Linked DNA regions of Homo sapiens. Each later gene encodes a partner of the first gene's protein in a complex. Each region holds a gene or a part of one and is shown in the gene's direction. Other genes may lie near its edges. The genes, in order: KCNA3 and KCNAB2.

Region 1 (7,266 bases):
CATCATCCATGTCCCTGCAAAGGGCATGAACTCATCCTTTTTTATGGCTGCATAGTGTTCCATGGTGTATATGTGCCACATTTTCTTTATCCAGTCTATCATTGATGGGCATTTGGGTTGGTTCCAAATCTTTGCTATCGTAAATAGTGCTGCAATAAACATACATGTGCATGTGTCTTTGTAGTAGAATGATTTATAATCCATTGGGTATATACCCTGTAATGGTATTGCTGGGTCAAATGGTATTTCTGGTTCTAGATCCTTGAGGAATCGCCACACTGTCGTCCACAATGGCTGAACTAATTTGCATTCCATGCTCATGGATAGGAAGAATCAATATCGTGAAAATGGCCATACTGCCCAAAGTAATTTATAGATTCAATGCTATCCCCATCAAGCTACCCCTGACTTTCTTCACAGAATTATAAAAAACTACTTTAAATTTCATATGGAACCAAAAAAGAGCCCATATAGCCAAGACAATACTAAGCAAAAGAACAAAGCTGGAGGCATCACACTACCTGACCTCAAACTATACTACAAGGCTACAGTAACCAAAAGAGCATGGTACTGGTACCAAAACAGATATATAGACCAATGGAACAGAACAGAACAGAGGCCTCAGAAATAACACCACACATCTACAACCATCTGATCTTTGACAAACCTTACAAAAACAAGCAATAAGGAAAGACTCCCCTATTTAATAAATGGGAAAACTGGCTAGCCATATGCAGAAAACTGAAACTGGACCCCTTCCTTATACAGTATACAAAAATTAACTCAAGATGGATTAAAGACTTAAACGTAAAACCTAAAACCATAAAAACCCTAGAAGAAAACCTAGGCAATACCATTTAGGACATAGGCATGGGCAAAGACTGCATGAGTAAAAGCAATGCGAACAAAAGCCAAAATTGACAAATGGGGCCTAATTAAACTAAAGAGCTTCTGCACAGCAAAAGAAACTATCATCAGAGTGAACAGACAACCTACAGAATGGGAGAAAATTTTTGCCATCTATCCATCTGACAAAGGGTTAATATCCAGAATCTACAAGGAACTTAAACAAATTTACAAGAAAAAAACAATCCCATCAAAAAGCGGGTGAAGGATATGAACAGACACTTCTCAAAAGAAGACATTTATGCAGCCAACAAACATGAAAAAAAGCTCACCATCACTGGTCATTAGAGAAATGCAAATCAAAACCACAATGAGATACCATCTCATGCCAGTTAGAATGGCGATCATTAAAAAGTCAGAAAACAACAGATGCTGGAGAGGATGTGGAGAAATAGGAACGCTTTTACACTGTTACTAGGTGCTATTTCTCCATTCATTTATCTGTAATTGTGGATCAGGACCTCTAGCCCTGCCTTGTCCCACTCTCAAACACTTCTGAGCTAATCCTAAATGCTGCTTACCATCTGGCAAACAACTGGTGAACTATTTCTGGGATTGATGTGGTCAGTAGGAAACACAAACTATGCCTAGAGCAACACAGAAAGGCCAAACACCAAGATTTATTTACCCTTGCTGTTTGCAAACCTGACGGTTTTAGTCAGGCTCTAGTATTGCAGACTGAAATATGAGGAAATCCTGCACATGCTCAGAGAAGCTGTTGGCTTTGCCACAGTTCTACGCCTAAACGTTATAATAATATTATTATTATCCCACAGGGGTGTTATGAGGATTAATGAGACATTTTCAAATCACTTTGAGCTACTCTGTTGGGGGTACTAAATAAATGCTATGTTTTCCTCTTGAAATGCCATTTTTGGCATTGATTTGTTGTGATGGGTTCGGCTGTCCAACAGGGCTAGAATGAGCCCACCAACTCATTTTCTATAGACAACAGACGAGCCGTCAGAAGGAGTGGTTTTCAGTTAAGATAAATATGAATTGAAGTGAACTAGTCGGCAATCAGAAGCAAATAGGCTGCTGTTAGAAATCTAGTATATTAAGTACTCACAGTGATCAACACAAGCGTTGCACAGTGTGATACAGTAAAGCAAACACTGGATTTGGAAATGGTCCAAGATTTTAGGCCCAGCTCTGCTGCTAACTAGCTATGTGAGCTTAAGCAAATTGCTAAACTTCTCTGGGCCCCAAATACAAAGTAAGGACTTTATATGTGTCCTAAGAAGCACATAATCAAAGTCTTCCAGACAAGGCAAATACATGAAAGGGAATGGAAATAGTCACTTATGAAGGAAAGACATTTCACAGCTGGGAGAAGCTTGTGACCATTTGTCACAGGACTATCCTCTGCTCTGGTCTTCCTTGCCATTGATTAATATTAATTTCAGTACTAATTCCTGCAAAAGAAGGAATAAATCATTTTCTAAGTCAGACATAGAAGTACATGAAACATCTGGTCTTTAAAAATAGGGTCTTTGCCTTTCCATGAGCTATCATTGCAGCAAGCAGTCTGTCTCATTCTAAGATTTAAATATATGAATGATTGATTATACTGCTACTCTAATCACCAGCTCAAAATATATACGCAAAATAATGAGGTGGCTGTCACATTCCAGTGTTCTGGAGTTTTGTAAGAGAAAGAGTTTTACGTGGTTGCCCAGTTTTGCCATTCCACAACATAAGTGACTGCCTGCATTGTCTGGCACTGACCAGGAGGTGAAACGGAAGATGAAGGGACAATAAAAGGACATGGGTGCCTGTTGTGCCCAGGAGAGCCGGAGGTGGAAATCCTATGGAATAAATGAGCAGTGTTTTCTATGGTGAGCTCAGTTTTTCCTCACTCCTCATCCTAGGAATCACAGCAGCATCTTGGGCTCAAAAAGAAGAAATGTTGAAACTCCAGAGCAGATAGCAACGCAAAGAGACACTCCTTGGGGAATTCAATCTGACAAGTATGTACCAAGTCTCCACCATTTACAAGGCACTTTGGTAGTTGCTAGAAATATAAGTTGGCTAGGACCTACTCTGTGCCCTAGAGAACCCCATGGTTGGGAGTGGTGGTGGGAAGTATTGACCACAAATCACTTACTTAAAATTGAATTGTCAGCTAACTTTGGGTGGGTGAGGAGCTGTCTAGACAATAGTTCCTCTTCTGTAAATGATTTGAATGATACAATAAAAAACAGACTTTTTAAAGCCTAGGGTTGAGTTATATTAGATTGCTAAAATTTCTGGAAACAAATTGTGTTCAAAGTAACCACAATAATTTGGAAAAATAAGTTTAAAGAAGATACATGTAAGTTATCTCTGGGCCCAGATCAAGCAAGAGGTACAAGTTGCAGAATGAATGTCCTTCCAGTTTAACAACTAGAGCGCTGCAAATTCCCTACCACAAGGGCAGTGCCAAAATATTAAGTAAAAAGTCTAGGTACAGGTCCTGCTCTCATCCCTTCCACGACAGGCTTGAGTCATAAAGCTGGACTTTCTAACCACACAACTTCGACTTCGTGAATTTCCTTTCCCATTTTTCCTCTTATTTCCCCGCCAACAGGAAACCTGTGTAGTGGATAAAGACCAGGCTGTCACTGCTAATCCCAATCAGAAACTTGGTCCTTGATTCTTCCCAGTGGCCGACATCTCCGCTGCGAAAACGGGTGTGAACTATTCACTAAAGCAGCAGGGCCCGAACGCCTTTAACAATCCATTTCCTTCGGACTCCGTTTGCGAAGCCCATCAGCACCCATTACTCCCTTTGGCTTCGCATCCTAGCAGAAGCTAAATTGTTTAAACCCCCGCTCCTCCCCAGGGTTTGGCGGTCCTCGACCCTCAAGGGAACCTGGGATGCCGGCGCCAGGCTTGCCTCTGGCCCAGGGCGCCCGCCTGGCCTGCACTCCCTCCCTGGACACTGGGCCCGCCTGCCCTCCCCGGGCTGTACCTAGGGGTGTGGAGGCCAGGGGGCCGGCGCCCGCGGGGCCGCGGCGGGAGCTCTCCCGGCCCACGGGCCGAAAACCCTGGCGACTGGGACGCGGCCAGGCGGGCCGGGGGCGAGGGGCGCTGACCAGAAGCGGGCGGAGCCTAGGGGCCCGGGCCGGCAGCCTGACTCCCCGTGGGCCGGCTCTGCTGGGTGGGCATTCCCGCGGGGCGCCGAGGTACAACATGAGGGCTCTTTCGCTGACACCGAGGGGCCTTGAGGGCTGCAAGAAATGCAGGCCCGGCGGCTGCCCCCGAGAGCGGGACGCGCGCCCGCGCGGTGGGCGGGAATCCTAAGGGGACGCGGAGGCGGGCGCGCGCCCCGCAGGGGAGGGGGCGGAGAGCGCGAGAAGGAGGGAGGAGGCGTCCCCGTGCGGGAGCCCGGCTGACCGCGCCAGACCCAGACAGAGCATCGCGGCTTTGGCTGCAACAGGCGGTGGGCTCGGCTCGGGGGCGGAGGCGGCGAAAGGGCGGGGAGCGCGAGGAGGAGCGACCTGGCCTCACCGCTGCCGCCTCTTCCCCGCCGCATGGACGAGCGCCTCAGCCTTCTGCGCTCGCCGCCGCCGCCCTCAGCCCGCCACCGCGCCCACCCTCCTCAGCGCCCAGCGAGCAGCGGCGGTGCCCACACGCTGGTGAACCACGGCTACGCGGAGCCCGCCGCAGGCCGCGAGCTGCCGCCCGACATGACCGTGGTGCCCGGGGACCACCTGCTGGAGCCGGAGGTGGCCGATGGTGGAGGGGCCCCGCCTCAAGGCGGCTGTGGCGGCGGCGGCTGCGACCGCTACGAGCCGCTGCCGCCCTCACTGCCGGCCGCGGGCGAGCAGGACTGCTGCGGGGAGCGCGTGGTCATCAACATCTCCGGGCTGCGCTTCGAGACGCAGCTGAAGACCCTTTGCCAGTTCCCCGAGACGCTGCTGGGCGACCCCAAGCGGCGCATGAGGTACTTCGACCCGCTCCGCAACGAGTACTTCTTCGACCGCAACCGGCCCAGCTTCGACGCCATCCTCTACTACTATCAGTCCGGGGGCCGCATCCGCCGGCCGGTCAACGTGCCCATCGACATTTTCTCCGAGGAGATCCGCTTCTACCAGCTGGGCGAGGAGGCCATGGAGAAGTTCCGCGAGGACGAGGGCTTCCTGCGGGAGGAGGAGCGGCCCTTGCCCCGCCGCGACTTCCAGCGCCAGGTGTGGCTGCTCTTCGAGTACCCCGAGAGCTCCGGGCCGGCCCGGGGCATCGCCATCGTGTCCGTGCTGGTCATCCTCATCTCCATTGTCATCTTCTGCCTGGAGACGCTGCCGGAGTTCCGCGACGAGAAGGACTACCCCGCCTCGACGTCGCAGGACTCATTCGAAGCAGCCGGCAACAGCACGTCGGGGTCCCGCGCAGGAGCCTCCAGCTTCTCCGATCCCTTCTTCGTGGTGGAGACGCTGTGCATCATCTGGTTCTCCTTCGAACTGCTGGTGCGGTTCTTCGCTTGTCCTAGCAAAGCCACCTTCTCGCGAAACATCATGAACCTGATCGACATTGTGGCCATCATTCCTTATTTTATCACTCTGGGTACCGAGCTGGCCGAACGACAGGGCAATGGACAGCAGGCCATGTCTCTGGCCATCCTGAGGGTCATCCGCCTGGTAAGGGTCTTCCGCATCTTCAAGCTGTCGCGCCACTCCAAGGGGCTGCAGATCCTCGGGCAAACGCTGAAGGCGTCCATGCGGGAGCTGGGATTGCTCATCTTCTTCCTCTTTATTGGGGTCATCCTTTTCTCCAGCGCGGTCTACTTTGCCGAGGCAGACGACCCCACTTCAGGTTTCAGCAGCATCCCGGATGCCTTCTGGTGGGCAGTGGTAACCATGACAACAGTGGGTTACGGCGATATGCACCCAGTGACCATAGGGGGCAAGATTGTGGGATCTCTCTGTGCCATCGCCGGTGTCTTGACCATCGCATTGCCAGTTCCCGTGATTGTTTCCAACTTCAATTACTTCTACCACCGGGAGACAGAAGGGGAAGAGCAATCCCAGTACATGCACGTGGGAAGTTGCCAGCACCTCTCCTCTTCAGCCGAGGAGCTCCGAAAAGCAAGGAGTAACTCGACTCTGAGTAAGTCGGAGTATATGGTGATCGAAGAGGGGGGTATGAACCATAGCGCTTTCCCCCAGACCCCTTTCAAAACGGGCAATTCCACTGCCACCTGCACCACGAACAATAATCCCAACTCTTGTGTCAACATCAAAAAGATATTCACCGATGTTTAATATGTGATACAAGTGACATGCTGTGCTCAGTATTGTGTGGAACGTGCCCCCTTGGTCTGCCTATGCCCTTGTTTTATACATTTCCAGACCATTCATCAAGGAAAGGACCTGAAGAAGTGGAAAGCACACTTCATTCTCCCTCTCCCTGCTGCTTCATACTGAAACAGGTGCCTGTTTTGCAAGTGGGCTGCATTCTCTCAGCTCTCCTTTTCCCTCTTACCCTCTCTCTCTTAACATTGTAAACAACAGACTTACGTTAAACTTCATTTCTAGTACACGCCCTATTTAAAAAAGAGCAGTACATCCTGGGAGGAAATGAAACTAAAGAACAGTTAGAGTAACTGTTTAACCTCAGAATTTTAAAGGCAGTTGTTTCTTTCCTAAGCACATCAATTCGTAGTAAATGATGCTTCGGTTTGATGGACCTTTCAACGTTATTTATTGAATATGTATTTCGGTTGCCTACCCTGTAGATATGTGGATGAAGAGTCTAACTAGAATAATGACTTGTAAACCCACCATGAGTTATTTGGTTTTTGACTTAAATTCCTATTTGAATCCCCTTTCCCGGAATTTTAAGTGTCTCTACAACTTTGAATAAAGGGAAATGCCCAAGATGTCCTGATCTGACTAATTAGTTTAATTCTTTCGGGCTTGCTAAGCATTTCTAAAGCATTAGACTAACAGATTCCTGTGAAGTTCTGTGCATATGTCCCAGCCCCAACAACTATCAAAGTCTAGAAACAGATGTTTTCAGTGTTGCTGAGAGAAACAAAAAATTTCCTAATGCATCTGAGAGATAAGCTTCGGCAGTATCACAAGAAGATTAAAGTGGCAGACACCCCTTCCAGCGGAAGTTACTAATTCGGACCTGACTGATGCAGTTTCCATAGCAACCCATGTTTCCTGGGAAACCCGAAAAAGGTTGTCATGGCATCTCTTGCTCTCTAGCCCCACCTCCCAGCCCCTGCCGTTTCCACAGTAACCTTTCCAGATGGTTCCTACTTAAATGATTTCATAAGGAAAACCACTGTTTGAATAAGCCGCACAAAAAATAAAGTTAAGTCTGAGACTCTAAGGAGGTGAAATGAATCCCAAATGCATTTTTTAACTATGA
Region 2 (16,495 bases), about 100 Mb from region 1:
GCAGGGCAGGGGTCAGAGATCTGCTCTAGGAAGGAAGCCTGGTAGCAGGGAGTAAGACAGGGAAGAGAGAGGCTAATGCAAGGAGACCAGACAGTGCCCAGGAAAGGTGCAGGACGGCTGAGCTCCAGGAACTGCACAGAGAGAGAATGAAGGGGTGCAGGGCCTGAAAAAAGGACGTCAGAAGCCACGTCCACAGGGCTTGGCCACTGATGGGCAGGTGCTGAGACAGAAAGGGACAGAGAGGAGCAGTGGACCCAGGGAAGGAGAGGGCCTCATTCGGAGCATGTTAGGCTGCAGCTACCACCCAGTAGTGAGGCGCAGGCCCCCCGACCAGGGCGACATGTGGGGATCTGACAGAGTGGGCTTGGGCCTTTGGGGACAAACCATTTCAATTGCCAAGGCCTTCGCAGCTAGTCACCCGCAGCCAGGCACCTCCAGACTCTACGTGCTCTCCCAGCCTCCCACTTCATTTACCTTCCACACTGCGACTGGGGCACTGATTTCCTGTCCCCCACCTTCCCCCATGGCAGCTACCACTGTTTGCTCATTCATCATGGGGGGACGGTTCTGCCTCCATTCAAAATCCCACATTCACTGGCGCGCTTTCTCAGCCGGAAGATGATGTCACGCTGGGACTTTGCTGGCATCCTGTGACACGCAGTGACCCTGGGGGTCATGACCCTGGGGTTGGGGCTCAGCACTTAGCCTCATCCCAGAGCTCAGCCTTGTTTGGCCTAGTCTCAAAGCATTTCCCAAACCCCAGGTCAGGACATGTGCCGTGGAGAAGGGCTCCTGTGTCCCTGCCTGGAGTGAGTGGCAGTGTGGAGTCCAAATAGCAGGTTCTGGGGCCTTCCTGCCATTTATAGCTACCGGTAGTATCAGATATACCCATCTCGGGTGTATCCCCAGAGGACAGGAGGAGCATGCGCGTGTGCTGAGCAGAGGCCTCTCCAGACCCCCTTGGCTGTGGGTGGTGGCCCCATACGACGGGGCCCCCAGCTCCCCTGCTGCAGACACAGTTCAGAGTTGAGTGGTATGCGGAAGCCACAGGCTCTGTGTCCCGCACTCAGATACCAAAGAGCAAGGCCTGCCCCTTTCGACCTGTGGGTCCAAAGGTTTGTGTTTCTGGCACGCGGGGATGGTGGAGGCAGCAAGGGTAGGCCTGAGGGACGGGCAGGACCTCCCCCTCACCTTGGGCTGCACCCCAACCCCACGCACCGGGAGTCAGCCTTGCCAGGTTGCAGCACGGAACTGCACTTCCCGAGCTTTTAGGGGAAGAGGCACTCGTGAATAATTCAGCCTCTTTCACTGAGATGAAAACGCCCTAATAGAACTAATGGACTCGCTGCCTCAAAACTCGACTCTGGTGGGACTCATCTCATTCACCAATTGCTTCTGACGTCCTGCAGTGACACTCCCTAATGAAAAAGCCGCTGTGCCAGATCCTTAGAGTGTCTGGTGATCCCTAATAAACCAGACTGTGGCCTTTTTAACGAGCAGACGCCCCCACGAAGGCAGGTGAGTCCTCCCTTCAGCCGCTACCTTCCTAGTGGAGATGCCGCTTGGGGGCACGCATCCGCGGGAATGAAAAATAACAGAGGAGACCATATTTTGGGGTGGTTTTGTCTGATCCGGAATTAGACCCTCCGTGTTTTTGCAAAGCAGAAGACCTTAAAAAAGAGCCAGCCTGAGGTAAACTTGGAATGACCGTGATGGATGGGGTGGTGGGCGGCAGGTTTCAGCCGGGCAGCACCTCTCGCTTGAGTCTGCTCACAGCCCAGACCTGCCCAAGGCTGACTGTTTTCCCATCTGCCGGAGACACGGGCGTCTAGCTCGTACCTCGCTGTGTTCACCATTGATTAAGATTCAGCATTTTCCAGTTTTGCCCAGAGCGCTGTCAGGGAGGTTTGGTCTTGTCTGAAATGTCTGTGCAGGAAGCACGTGCTGAGGGAGCCAGGGGCTGCTTGTTTGGGCCTCAGTTTGCTGATTGTCCTTGAGCGAAAATCATTCTGTGTTTGCACTGAAGCAATGCCGTGTCTTGTAGAGCCGCACCCCGGAATGGTAGCAGCTCCCCTTCCATTTCCGCTTTGGAGAACTCTGGCTGGGCTCTCTGCTCTCTGGACAGGTGTCACCATTCAGAAGAGATGCTCAGGGTTCCTTCTCAATCTCAGGTTGTATGCTTTGTTGGCTTTCAGTAAACAGAACAATTCAGAAATTCCAGGTAGAGGAGTCTGGGGTGAGGTAGTGATTCCTACTGACTTAATGAGGTTAACATCTTCCTTGCATTTTTCCATGTCACGGTGTTAATTCACGTGAATTCCCCTGGGCCCCTGATCTACAGGAATAGATTTGCACCAGGCAGGCCCAGCCCAGGAAAGAACTTGTGGGTTCCACGTAATTAGCAATGGCTATTGAGGAGGGGCTCGTTTTTCTTGGTACCAGGGTGGTGAGGGAGTGTCAGGGCTCAGAGACCCTCACTCTGGAAAGCGGCCGGGATTTGGGATATTTTGAATTGGAAGTCAGGGGTCACTGTGCTCTTGAGCACAGGAGAAGTGGGGACCCTGAGGCAGGAGCCCGGCAGTGGGGCCACTCTCTCCTCCCTGCAGTGTCTTACCGGGGGGCCCTTCGTCCAAGGACCTGACGCTGCTAGAGTCTCGGCAAAAGCCCAGAATAGAGCCCCAGTGTGAGGGAGTCCAGAGGTGTCCTCTGTCCCCAGGCACCGCTGGTAACGGGCAGAGCCTCTTTGCCTTCTGCCTGTACCTATCCTTCTTCCCCTGGGGCAGCCCTCCCAGAGTCATGAGCCTTCAGGACCACAGGGAGCCCCCGCTGTACAGAGTCCTGGCATGGGAGTCCCCCCCACACAAGAGAGGGTGACCTGCAAAGAGCTGCTGGGTCTGAGGTAGGAAGCCAGCCCCGCCCCCACCAACAGCTGCCTGGCACTGCCAGGAAATGCCCAGGTATAGCCCTGGTTGGCCTTTTGGAGCCTGGGCCTTGGTTACTGTTCTACAAATATCTGAGCCCCTCCTCTGTGCACGGGACACTCCCGTGGGCACTGGTCAGGGGGCAGTGGCAGCAGGCAGAAGAGTCCTTGCCCTCCTGGACCCAACCTTCAGGGGAGTCCAGCGGCCATGGGCTCCTCATGGCACCAGCCCTGCTCCTCACCCCACCACCCCATGCCAAAGGCTGCCATTTCTGTGCCCGCAAGTTCCCTGGCCCAAGCCCTGCCCTGGCACCATGGGGACAAGCTCGTAGCAAGAGGCTCTGGGCTCCCTCCGTGCCGCAGGGCTCCCACCTGCAGGTCTGCTCCCAGGGCTGCAACATGAGCTCTAAGGAAAGATTGCAAGCGGGCCCCCACAGGGAGGGACGCCCTCTAAATCCTGGCCACAAAACCCATTCTGTCCTGCCCTCTCTCCCCTCTCCCACTCACATCCCCAAACTCAGCCTTCCACCATCTTGTTGTGAAGGGGGCGATTATTCACATCTGTGTTCTCTTCCCTTAAGCATTTTCTAGGGAGATTTGGTGTCTGTGTGGCTCACTCCTCTCACTCAAACCTGTGGTCACAAGTTCCTTCCCGCCCTGCCTGCTGGCCCCTGGTGGTGGATTTTTCTTTCCACAGCATTTATCATAATTGGTGTCTTATCCCACGCCCCCCAACAGACTGTCTTCTGGCTGCGTCACCAACTCCCACCCAGTTGTCCAAAGCCTCATCTCATGCAGCCCACAGCAGCCTGGTACAACAGGCCTCTGCCCAGCCTACCTCACAGATGTGGAGGCTGAGGCCGGGAGCGGTCAAGGTGCCTGCCTGGGCCACACCATGAGCAGGTGACAAGCAGAGCTGCCCCTGTCCAGAAGCTGGGCACTCAGCCACCCCGTCCTCCAGCCCCGGGGCCTTGGCTATATTTCTAGAGCCAAACCAGACCCGGATTGCTTTTTGTGAGTAATGTCTTGAAAGCTAATGGCTATTGATCTCAGCCTGGTCGGGCCAGGCAGGGAACTTGCGTGTCTGAGGCTGGTCCTGCCTTTCAGAAAGAGCCCTGGGGCTACAGCCTGCCCAGCTGGCCTTCTTTCTAAACACAGACCTCAGGGAAGTGAGGGTTGGCCCCCATTTGCCCCACACCGGACTGGCAGCTAGCCACATGGCCACCTCAGAAGCAGCTGCCTGCCACGCGCATGGAGGGAAGGGAGTGGCCGGCCAGTAGGCAGGGAAGGGAAGCTGGTGCTGCTGTCTGTGGGTGCCAAGGGCCTCATTTCCTAAGGTGAACCTCTCCTGGAGTCCGGGCCTCTCTGCCCTCCAGAGCGATTCTCCTGGAAGGCAGACGGCTTTCCATGCCAGGGTACCCGCCTGCTTTAGCGTCCAGAGGTCCAGCAGCCACCACCCCTCCCAGCATAGAAATGAGCAGTGGTGAATGCAACTCCTGGCATGGGAACCCCCCAGCAAGAGAGGACGACCTGCAAAGAGCCACTGGGCCTGAGGCAGGAAGCCAGCCCCGCCCCCACCAACAGCTGCCTGGCACTGCCAGGAAATGCCCAGGTATAGCCCTGGTTGGCCTTTTGGAGCCTGGGCCTTGGTTGCTGTTCTACAAGTATCTGAGTCCCTCCTCTGTACACGAGGGGCACTCCCATGGGCACTGAGCAGGGGGCAGTGGCAGTGGCAGGAGGCAGAAGGGTCCCTGCCCTCCTGGACTCAACCTTCAGGGGAGTGAATTCAGCACACAGGACAGCTAGAAAGGAATCAGCAAGGTGGATGATGGCGAGCGCCATGGAGACAGATCACAGCAGGAAAGAGGCACATGGTGTGGTTTGTGTGGGACAGAGGGTAGGATGGGAAACGCAGCCCCCCCACCCCCGGGAGCCATGCCCATCAGACAGAGGTGCAGAGGTGCAGACAGCACAGCAGGCTCCCCAAGGACGACTGGTTGCTCGCCTTTAGGGAGGGGGCCATCCAGCCCTGACCAGGGTGGTGGGGCCAAGGCCTGTGTGGACACTGCTACCCAGCTCCCTGTAGGGGCTCCTCGGGGGCTCCTTGCCTGCTGGTCTCTCTTTAGCTCTTCTCTGAGCCCACCTTCCCTACCTCAATTGCATGTTCATGCAACAGGCATTTGTAGGCTCTGCTCTGAGCTAGGCCTCATGCTGGGCACAACAGGGCAGACATGAATGAAGGTCCCTGCAAATAAGATACAGACGAATACTTGCAGGGAAACCCCCATGAAAGAGGCAGCTGTGGGGCTCCTGGAGGTGGCCCCCCTCTCTGGGTGCACATATAGGCAGAGCAGTGAAAGGTCAGCAGGCTGGTCACCCATTCTGGAAGGACCCCAGCACATGGGGCTCATCACAAACTCCTGCCCCTTGTGGGTCTTTCCTTTGGCCCCTGGAGCTCACCCCAGGAAAGGCCCAGCCTGGGGCAACTCCAGGACATCTCAACCCCCTTCAAGGACCGTGCTAAAGCCTCTGTAGCTGCCTCAGCTCCCAGGATAGCCCTCCCAGCTCCTTCCCAGGGATAATCGAACTTTTCCTCTCTTGGGGCAGAAGGTGGGGACAGTGCTGGTTCCTTTCCAGCTCCCAGGCCAGGTTCCAGGATCCCACTGTGCAGCTGACCCAGCTGAAATGGTGACTTCCCCTCTGCACCTTCTCTCTCTGGTGATGATGCAGAGCTGCAGTGCAGGCCACCTGGGCCATGGCCGAGGCTGCAGTCAGGTGGGGTGAGGGTCACTGGACTGGGGACCTCCTTTGTGTTGAGCCTGCCTCCATGTCCTCATTGCGCTGTCACAGACTCTGCAGGGTGAGGACTCAGCCCCGAGGCTGCCCTCACTGGTCCACTCACTGTTGTGCACATGAATTAACACCAGTGGTTGCGTTCTGGACACACGCTTTCTCCCTTGGCCTTTTAATTGTCCACTATCTCTCAGGGCTCACTCACTCACTATGTTGAGATGCCTCATTCTTGACAGCAGCACAAATTCCCACTATGTGGATGGACTGTCACTTAGGTAACCAGTTTCCCTACTGATGGACATTTACATTGCTTTTAGTTTCCAAGAATGTGCATTCATCATTTCAGCTATATTTCAGTGGTTCTTCACATAGAAACTTTGAAACTCCCCTGTCCCAACTAAGCCTATTTCCCCAGGCCACTCTCCTCCGCAACCTGCTTAAATGCATTCTGCTCAGTTTTTCTTTTGCAAAAAGCATGAAGCCCAAAGATCTCTGCGGTGCAATGATGCGTTCAACAAGCAGGGAATGTGTTGTATAGATAGCATTTCCCTTTACAAGGCTAAGAGCAAATAGGACCTTCCCATGTTGGGGCCACCTGGCATGCGGGGGTGAGGTGCCTCCCTGGCATAATTACAGGAGAGTTTACTTCAGCAACAGGTGTGCCCTGCGCTGCTTTCCCAGGGACAGCTTTTGACCCAGTTTTACCCTGGGAACCACCTCAAGAGACCACCATGACATGGTACCGCAGTCACCACGGAACAGCAACCCTGGTCTTCAGCATTTGGGGGGCTCAGGCTCTGCATGCTCTCTGTGCTCCCGTTTTCATTTGGACACTTGGGGTGCAGCTGTCCTGCCTGGAATGCAGCTTTGCCTGTGCTTGTCTCACAGATGCAGGGGACAGAAAAGGGCAGCTTAGCCAGAGTTCCTGGCAAGCACTGCTTTGCGGACTGAGAATCTCATGCCAAGAGGTGTTTACATCCAGGGGCCGGGTCCCACTCCTAGACACCAAGACCTGGTGGTGGCACTAGTTAAAGGATGTTTCGCTGCAGCTGCCCCCTGCCCCAGGGCCAGCCATCCAGCCTGGGGCACGTGGGGCATTGGCACACTGTCTAACTCATCACCGTCTGGACAGTGGCAGCTCCCAAGCCAGGCGGCACCATGCTGTCCATGACGTACAGCGAGAGTCTGCGGAGCGTGAGCAGCAGGTGCCACTCTGAATGGGCCCTGCACCCCGTCCGCCAGACGGACACGCTGGAACTGCAGCGGCTGCGGGAGGTGCGGGCGGCTGCCCAGGCCAGGAACATGGAGAGCTTCCTCCGCATGCACGGCCTTTCCCTGGACGGCTGCACCGCCCAGCGCACAGGCATGAAGTATCGGTAAGGGCCGGGCAGGGGGGCGGTGGGGTGGGAAGTCTGATTTCAGCCATATAAATATGTATAAAAGGGCTGGGCACGGTGGTTCACACCTGTAATCCCAGCACTTGGGGAGGCAGAGGCGGGTGGATCACCTGAGATCAGGAGCTCGAGACCAGCCTGGCCAACCTGGTGAAACACCACCTACTAAAAATACAAAAAATAGCCAGGCATAGTGGGGCGCACCTGTAGTCCCAACTACTCAGGAGGCTGAGGCAGAAGAATTGCTTGAACTCAGGAGGCAGAGATTGCAGTGATCCAAGATCATACCACTGCACTCCAGCCTGGGCGACAAGAGTGAGACACTGTCTCAACAACAACAACAAAAATGTATAAAGGAAGAAAATGAGGCCAGGCACGGTGGCTCATGCCTGTAATACCAGCACTTTGGGAGGCCGAGGTGGGTGGATTGCTTGAGCCCAGAAGTCTGAGACCAGCCTAGGCAACATGGCAAAACCCCATCTCTACCCCAAAATACAAAGAAATTAGGTAGGCATGGTGCCATGCACCTGTAGTCCCAGCTACTTGGGAGGCTGAGGTGGGAGGATTACCTGAGCCCAAAGAATCTGATGCTGCAGTGAGCCGTGATCGCACCACTGCACTCCAGGCTGGGTGACAGAGCGAGACTCCATTGCGCAAAAAAAAAAAAAAAGTTTAGTAAATTCTCCATGGGGTAAAAATGTGTGGGTGTGTTTCTCCATGGGGAAAAATGTGTTTCTGGGTGTTGGAGACCCCTGCTCTTAATGATAGGCACGTAGGTCTGAATTTTCTTGGAACCTCCAAAGGACATTCTTTTTAGTGCGCTTGTCTTTGAATTCAGCACCTCGGACAGCGCTCTGCTAGCCACCGTTCTCTGGCTGGTGTAAATCCCTCTCAATTGCAAATTGACAGCTTTATCTTCTGTGCCTCTCAGGAACATGCCCTTGTGAGAGCCATTCAGCCAAAGAGGACCCTCCCCACCCAGTCCTTGTAGAGTTGCCAGTTAAATTTGAAGTTCAGATAAACGCGTAACTTTTTAGCATAAATACGTTCCATGCAATATTTGGGTCATACTTATACTAAAAAGTTCCTCATTGTTTATCTGAACTTCAAATTTAACTGGGCGTCCTGTGTTTTATCTGGCAACACTAAATATCTGGCTTCCGTCTGAGACAGACCCTAGGGATCATCTGCGTGCTCTGTGCAGAGTGGAGTGCAGGCCAGGACCGCTCCTTTAACGTTTTCTCCTGTGGACGGCGTGTTTGGTCCTTCAGCCCATTGTTTGAATATGTGGTTGTAATTTAGAAACAAAACACTTCTCCTGTGAGTCCATTAGATGGCAGTGTTTTTCAGGCTTTGTATCCTAAATCCAGCTGTAAAGGAAGGACAAAGGGTCCGCTAGTTTGGCCACAGCTGACCTCCTTGTTCTGCTGGAAATTTCTCAAGAAGGAGACGCTGGGCATTCATGAGGGGCTGGTCATTGATTCCTTTTGTTTATTCAGTAAATGTTTATTGAGAGTCTGCTTGGCACCAGGCGCTGAGCCAGATCCTGGAGCTGCTGCATGAACAAGAGCAACCAGGTCCCCAACCTCACGGCAGCCATGGCCTGGGGGTGTGGGGGGCAGAGAAGCAGCGAGCTTGCACGGAGACAAGTTCCAACAGCGACCACTGGCCGAGGCAGCAAAGCAGGACAATGCAATGAAGAAAGACCAGGGAGGCCGAGGGGGAACCCTCTGAGAGAGGGATCATCTGAAGATGTGGAGAACATTCCAGCCCAAGAGGAGAGGGGTCTGGAATGGATGCCTCTCTCAGCTGGAGGAGCGAAGAGAAGGCCCAGGCGGCTAGGCTGGAGGGAGGAAGGTGGAGGACACAAGGCGATGATGCAGGAGGGGCCAGACCCCATCCTCCAAACTCAGGGAAACCTCAGCTCTCTCCTATGTGGACAGGATTTGTGATGGAGGATAGTTTAGTGGGTTAAATCAAGACCCCCCAAAATTCACATTCATCCTAAACCTCAGAATATGACGTTAGGCTGGGTGTGGTGGCTCACGCCCGTAGTCTCAGCACTTTAGGAGGCAGCCTGGGTAACATGGCGAAACCCCATCTCTAAATACAATCAAAAAATTAGCCAGGCATGGTGACACATGCCTGTGGTCCCAGCTACACAGGCGGCTGATGCAGGAGGATCACTTGAACCCAGGATTTCAACGCTGCAGTGAGCCCTATTTGTGCCACTGCACTCCAGCCTGGGCGGCAGAGTGAGACCCTGTCTTAAAAAAAAAAAAAAAAGAAGAAGAAGAAGAATGTGACATTATTTGGAAATAGGGTCATTGCAGATATCATTAAGATGGGGCAATGGGGCCATACAAGACTAGAATGGACCCTAATTCCTACGACTGGTGTCCTTATAAGAAGGCCATGTGGTGATAGAGAGTGGAGTGACGGGTCCACAACCCAAGGGACTCTGAGGAGTCTCGGTGTTACCGGTGGAGGGTGTGCAGCCAGGTTCCTGGCATCTTGAACAAAGAATTGGACAAAACGCACATACAAAGCAAGGAAAGAATGAAGCAACAAAAGCAGCCGGGTGAGGTGGCTCACGCCTGTAATCCCAACAGTTTGGGAGGCCAAGACGGGTGGGTTACATGAGGCCAGGAGTTCGAGAGCAGCCTGGGCAACATGGCAAAAGCCTGTCTCTACTAAAAATACAAAAATTAACCAGTCGTGGTGGCGGGCACCTGTAGTCCCAGCTATTCGGGAGGCTGAGGCAGGAGAATCACTTGAACCTGGGAGGCGGAGGTTGCAGTGAGCCAAGATGGAACAAAAGTACACTCCACAGGATGGGAGTGGGCAAGCGGCTCAAGAACCTGGATACAGAATTTTCTGGGGTTTAAATACCTTCTAGAGGTTTCCCATTGGTTACCTGGTGTACATCTTATGTAAATGAAGTAGTGGCCTGTGATCATTCTGATTGGTTGCAGAAAGTGACCAATTAGAGGCTGAAATGAAGTTACAAAGTTACACTTCTATGCAAATGAAGACTTGGCCCACAGCCAGCCTGATTGGTTGCGGGAGGGGACAAATCAGAGGTATTTTCCATTTTTCGTCTGCCACACAGAAAAGGGGGCGCCATGCAAAGAGAGTAGCCTCTGGTTCTTTTGTTACTTGGGCGTGGAAAGTTGGGGTTTTCCTTTTGACTTAGTTATAGGAAATCAGCGGGAATTGGCCTTCAGTTCCCTGCCTCCAGACCCTGGTCTCCTGCCCCAACAGGAGCCACGAGATGCTGGAAGGGACAGGAAAGGACACCTCATGAGGGTGTTTGGAGGGAACACTGCCCACACCTGGACTTCAGACTCCAGAAGTGGGAGAGAAGACATTCCTGTTGTTGTAAGTCCTCTAATTTGGGGATCTTTGTAATGGCAGCCGCAGGGAACTAACACAGGTGGAGAGAACATATCTTTTATTTGCCTGAAGCCCCGAGGAAAATGCCTGAGCAGCCTCGGAGACACTGCAGGTCCCACTGTGGGGCTGAAACGCCCTTGGGGATCTCGCTTCTCAGGGAGTGGAGGAGACCAGAAGACAAACGCTTTTTTTTTTTTTTTTTTTTGAGTTGGAGTTTCGCTGTATCGCCCAGGCTACAGTGCAGTGGCACAGTCTCGGCTCACTACAACCTCTGCCTCCCAGGTTCAAGCGATTCTCCTGCCTCAGCCTCCCAAGTAGCTGGGACTGCAGGGATGCACCACCATGCCTGACTAATTTTTGTATTTTTGGTAGAGACAGAGTTTTGTCATGTTGACCACGCTGGTCTCAAACTCCTGACCTCAGGTGATCTGCCCACCTTGGCATCCCAAAGTGCTGGGATTACAGGCATGAGCCATCTCACCCCACCAACAAAGTCCCTTTAGCAGTTGATGGGCCAGAGGTTGTTGTTACACCCAGGTCAGGGTGAAGGTGGGGCGGGGAGGGTGGTGGCCTCACTCTATCTGGTGAATTTCATTTTGCTGCACCAGGGTTGACGGGGTGGGTGGGATGCTCCGTGACTCAGACCACCAGTTATTAAAGATCCCAGATAAATTTATTCTGTGCTTACCTCTTCTCCGTCAGCGACTGGGCTGGGTCACCATTAAACTTGGTCTTAAATATGAATATAGAAAAGATGATACCTGGGGATAGGCACTGCCCGGTGCCGCAAGAAACCAGCTGTGCCCCTGGCCTGGGCATTTCATCAGCTGAACTGAGCTGTAGCTGATGGAGGTGGACGGCAGCATGCCTGTTACACTTCCCCAGTTTTTTTTTGAGACAGAGTCTCACTCTGTCACCCAGGCTGGAGTGCAGTGGTGCAATCTCAGCTCACTGCAACCTCTGCCTCCTGGGTTCAAGCGATTCTCCTGCCTCAGCCTCCCGAGTAGCTGGGACTACAGGCGCGAGCCACCATGCCCGGCTATTTTTTGTATTTTTAGTAGAAACGGGGTTTCACCACGTTGGCCAGGCTGATCTCAAACTCCTGACCTCAAGTGACCCACTCGCCTCGGCCTCCCAAAGTGCTGGGATTACAGGCGTGAGCCACCGCGCCCGGCCTACACTTCCCCATTGTTTAAACTGTCCTCAATTATTGCTGTTAAAAAGAATTTTAAGATGAATTTTTAAATCCACACAGCCCCTGTGTAAGCATGAGGGAGCAGGGTGAGGGCAGCTGGCCTAGCACACACTTCCCCTCCCCTGTGGACGTTAGGGTTCAGAGATGTGGCCTCAGAATGGCAGGCCAGAAGCTGTGGCCGGGCCCACACTGTGCTGACTGGACACCAGCCCTCAGTTCAGCTGTGTTTTCCTCTGCTCCCCATGGTGCTGGGAGTGAACCCAAACTCCCCGCAAGGCTCTACGTGGCCCTAGCCTGCCTCCTTGGTTTCAACTCGGACCCCTCTCCCTCCCGCTCAGGAGGCTCTGGACGCCGCCCCTTCCTTCTGTATCCCCAAAGGGGAACTCATTCCATCCACAGGGTCATCGCACTTTCTGTTCCCTCTTCCTGGAGGCTGCCTCCCCAGACGTGGCCTGGTTCCTTCCCATTGTCACATCTAAGCTTGGTCCCCAAAGAGACTGTCCCAAGCACCCACTCTAAACAAGCACCTATGAAGTCATCAGAAGCCCCTCTCCTGAGTGAGTGTCTTCCTCACCCCTCCTCCATCTCGGTTGCCTTGCTCTTTGCCCATCTGCACTGCTTTGAGATCAGAGCTTTGTCTGTCCCTGGCACCCGGAACACCCCCAGCCTCTGTGAGTTTAGGTCGGAAGGCGCTGCGTGGTCTTGGTCTTAATCTACTTTCCAAAGCACATGTCTCGTTCGGGCTGCATCCTAGATGGTGGGAAGACAGGACTGACTGGAAGCTGGTCTGAGGCTCTCTCTGCAGTCCAGATGTGGATGGCAGGGAGCCTCTGCGGTCCTTGGGCACTGACCCTTGGTCATGAACTCCTGGCAGGGCAGGAGTCCTGATTTCCTGTGCTTTCTGACTCTAGATCCCAGGCTCTTACCACAAGCTCAGGTTCACCAGGAAGTACTTGGTTGGTTGCCAGGTTCATTGAGCAGACTGTAGTTGCTCAGTTAACCATAGGCCATCACTTCCAGCTGGGAAGAGCTGGGAATCCAGGTGTGTCTTAAAGGACAGGCGGGAAGGAGGGCACTGAGGGCAGGAGGAGGGGAAGGAGAAAAACAGCAGAGACCAGGGGGGATGGCAAGTTAACCTGTCTACAAGGCCAAGTGCATCCTGGGAAAGAGGGGTCCCCAAGGAACGGGGTCCATCTTGGGAAAGATCCTGTTTTACTTTCCTGAGGCTGCTGTAACAAGCTGGGTGGTTTACAACAGAAGCTTTTTCTTTCCCAGTTCTGGGAGGTGAAAGTCCAACGGCCAGGTGCAGCCGGGCCATACTTCCTCCGAAGGCCCCAGGGAGGGTCCTTTTTGCCTCCCCCAGTTTCTGGTGGTGCCGGCAGGCCTGGGCATTCCTCAGCTTGTGGCCACATCGCTCCAACCTCTGCCTCTGCCGTCCCATGGCCATTTTCTCTCTGTGGGCCTCTGTCTCCAAATCTCTCTCTCCTTATAAGAACACCAGTCATGGCCAGGCACAGTGGCTCATGCTTATAATCCCAGCATCTTGGGAGGCTGAGGCAAGTGGATCACTTGAGTCCAGGGGTTCAAGACCAGCCTGAGCAATGTGGCAAAACTCTGTCTCTACAAAAAATGCAAAAAATGGCCAGGCATGGTGGCAAGTGCCTATGATCCCAGCTATTCCTGAGGCTGAAGTGAGGATCACTGAGCCCAGGAGGCAGAGTCTGCAGTGAGCCGAGATCGAACCACTGGCACTCCAGCCTGGGTGACAGAACAAGACCCTGCCTCAAAAACAAAAAGCAAAAAACAAAAACCCAGTCATTGGATTGAAGGCTGACCCTAATCCAGGACCATCGCATCTTAACTTGATTACATTTGCAAAGACCTTGTTTCCAAATAAAGTCACACTCACAGGTATCAGGAATTAGGATCTCAACTGTCTTTTGGGGACACATTTCGACCTGCCACAGGCCCCAAGGATTGACTCAACACCTTGAGCCTGCGGGGACATCCCTGAGTGTCCTGGGAGGAACCCGGGCTCCCACCGGCTACCTGTGTGACCTCAGACAAGTCCCCTGGCCTCTCCATGACTCGATTTCCTTACCCGGAAAGTGGAGACCGGGGTCACTACAGCAGAATTGTCCTGAGGACTAAATAAGCTCCAGGTGACATAACTCAAAGCTCCAGGCTTGGCTCATTGTGGGAGAGAAATGCAGGCCCTTCCCGTCCCTGGAAAAGGGACCTTCCCACACAGCAGTCGCTGTCCAGGCACCTGGACTGTCCCCTGTCTATCCATCTTGGGGTCTCACTCGTGCACCTAGTCTCACTTAGAGATGTAGTTCAGTGCCGCGCAGACAAGGGGCGGAGGCATCAGGAAGGAACAGGAGGAGGGAGGGAGGCGAGCAGCCAGTCATTCCGGAAGAGCTGCCGGGCCAGACGCAGGGGCTGGGAGAAAGCCAGCTGGCAGGCCCAGTGCTCTCCTTGAGGGCCTGCCCAGGACCACGGCTGGCAGCTGTGTGGGGCTTGGGTCGGGGCTGGGAGGGCTTCTGCTGGCAGCGGGCACCACATTGGAGCCTCGGTGGTCATGGTCATCCCAGGCCTGGAAACAGCATCCGTCTGCAGCCCCAGCCTCTCCAGCCCCAGCTTCCCTAAAGGGACAGAACAGCCCTTCCCTCCCCCACAGGGCTGCTGCAGGAGAGGTGGGAGGAAAGGCAGAGAGACCCAGACTCCTGCACTGGGTGGTTGCCTTGTAACCGACTGATGATGTGCTAGGTGTTTCTGGAGCTGACCTGGCCACAGGAATCACGGGCCATACCTGTTTTTCCTGTTTTTTGTTGTTTTTTGTGTTGAGACAGCGCCTTGCTCTGTCGCCCAGGCTGGAGTGCAGTGGTGCAATCATAGCTCACTGCAGCCTCAGCCTCCTGGGCTCAAGTAATCCTCCAGCCTCAGCCTCCCTAGTAGCTGGGACCACAGGTGCGCACCACCACACCTGGCTAATTTTTGTGCTTTTTGTAGAGATGAGTCTCACTAGGTTCCCCAGGCTAGCTGGGAACCCCTGGGCTCAAGCGATCCACCCACCTTGGCCTCCCAAAGTGCTGAGATTATAGGCATGAGCCACTGTGCCCAGCCACACCTGTTACACTACCGATCCCCAGGCCCCTTCCTGGAGGTTTGGGGCATCTTCCCCTGGAGGCTCTTCGGACAAGCAAGGAGAGGGAGCACCACCCATGTGCTGGCGCCGTGGTCATTGTTGTTGGTCTTGTTACGTCTCAAAGGGTGCTTCTGAGGACAGAAGGAGGAAGAGAAAGAGAGGTGCTCGCTTGGGGCTGGAGAGTTGCATGGGAAACAGCAGCAACTCAGAGCAGAGCCGGCCATCTCACAGCCGCGGGCCTCTCTCCCCTTTCTGGGCTCCTAGAGTTGGAAGTGAGTGGGGCCATGAGGTCCTGGTGAGCAAGAGGAAGGAGGAGGAACTGGCTTTGCAGACCGTGCAAAGCCGGTTCCCGGGAAGCACACACATGGCCTGCAGGAGGCCTTGTCCTAGCATCACCTGCAGCTTCAAGCACAGTCCACTCAGCCCAACCACAGAATGGGCCCCGCCAGTGGGATGTGCGCTCTGGGCAAGGCTCACATGTCCTGTCATCGGTCCTGTGGCCTCCTCCTTCCCTCGGCCTCCCACTGTCCCTCCGTGTCAAGTCTCCCACCATCTGATGCGCCCTCTGGCAAGGCCAGTGAGTCACCCTACTCCAGACACAGAACCTGCTGCTGCCTCACAGGCTCCCGCCATCTGCCCTCCTGCCTCTGCTCTCAGGAGAAGGACACTCCTGGAATTCCACATGGATCCCACCTTCTCCCTGGAGCCCTGCCATACTCCTGGGCACCGCTGATGCGCTCTCCTGCTGGCTGACTTGGCCTTGAACACGGGTGGCTCAGGCCTTTCCCAGGGACCCTTGCTTCATGCCCCAGCTGGAGGAAGCCACACTCACAGCACTTAGCCCCTATGGGGTCTTCAGCTCTTACTCTCCTGGTGGACTCCTCCTCCAGGAAGGCCACCGGCCCTGCCTCCCTTTGTTCTTAGAAACTGCTCCTTTGGGGCAGCCCCTCAACTGTTCAACATCCTCTGCCCTTCCTTGGGCAAGAAGCCACCTTTGGGTGTAAACCACACTCCGTTCAGCACGGACAAGGCGGTCTCTGCAGGATGCAGACCCTCAGTCTCACTCTCGGAGGAGCTGCTGGAGGCTGTGCTTTTAAAAGCCATGTCAGGCCAAGCGTGGTGGCTCACGCCTGCAATCCCATTACTTTGGGAGGCCCAGGCAGGTGGCGGATCACAAGGTCAAGAGATCGAGACCATCCTAGCCAACATGCTGAAACCCCGTCTCTACTAAAAATACAAAAATTAGCTGGGCATGGTGGCACGTGCCTGTAGTCTCAGCTACTCAGGTGGCTGAGGCAGGAGAATTGCTTGAACCCAGGAGGTGGAGGTTGCAGTGAGCCAAGGTCGCACCACTGCACTCCAGCCTGGCAACAGAGCAAGACTCCGTCTCAAAAAAAAAAAAAAAAAAAAAGCCATATCTAAAACCTTCTCCAGACCTTGAGCCCTCCACAGGCCTCGTTCTGTGCATGAGAGGGCATCCGCCCCCTTCCACTGCGAGCCTGTTGCCATTGTAGGGGAGGAGCTGGCCGGCCCCAGCTTTCCAGCCTCTCCAGGCCCAAGGGGGAGGAGTGGACCCCAGGCACTGAGCCGGAAGCCTCCGCTACAGCAGGGATGCTGTCTGTGGTGCACTCCAGGGACACAGAGCAGAG

What was found.
Region 2: the proteins of KCNA3 (region 1) and KCNAB2 are in contact, whole or in part, in a cryo-EM structure (PDB 7EJ2), measured with the Homo sapiens proteins. Residues at the interface, in NP_002223.3 of Homo sapiens: Pro133 (codon at 4,818), Met137 (codon at 4,830), Phe140 (codon at 4,839), Pro142 (codon at 4,845), Leu143 (codon at 4,848), Asn145 (codon at 4,854), Tyr147 (codon at 4,860); in NP_001186789.1 of Homo sapiens: Met196, Tyr199, Ser200, Arg203, Glu231, His234, Lys235, Ile236.

What each region holds. Positions count from the first base shown.
Region 1 is NC_000001.11:110,671,965-110,679,230, reverse strand, and holds KCNA3 (potassium voltage-gated channel subfamily A member 3), read left to right. Parts: upstream 1-4,290; 5' UTR 4,291-4,421; coding exon 4,422-6,149; 3' UTR 6,150-6,766; downstream 6,767-7,266.
Region 2 is NC_000001.11:6,044,666-6,061,160, forward strand, and holds the start of KCNAB2 (voltage-gated potassium channel subunit beta-2), read left to right. Parts: upstream 1-1,222; 5' UTR 1,223-1,518; intron 1,519-6,845; 5' UTR 6,846-6,871; coding exon 6,872-7,089; intron 7,090-16,495.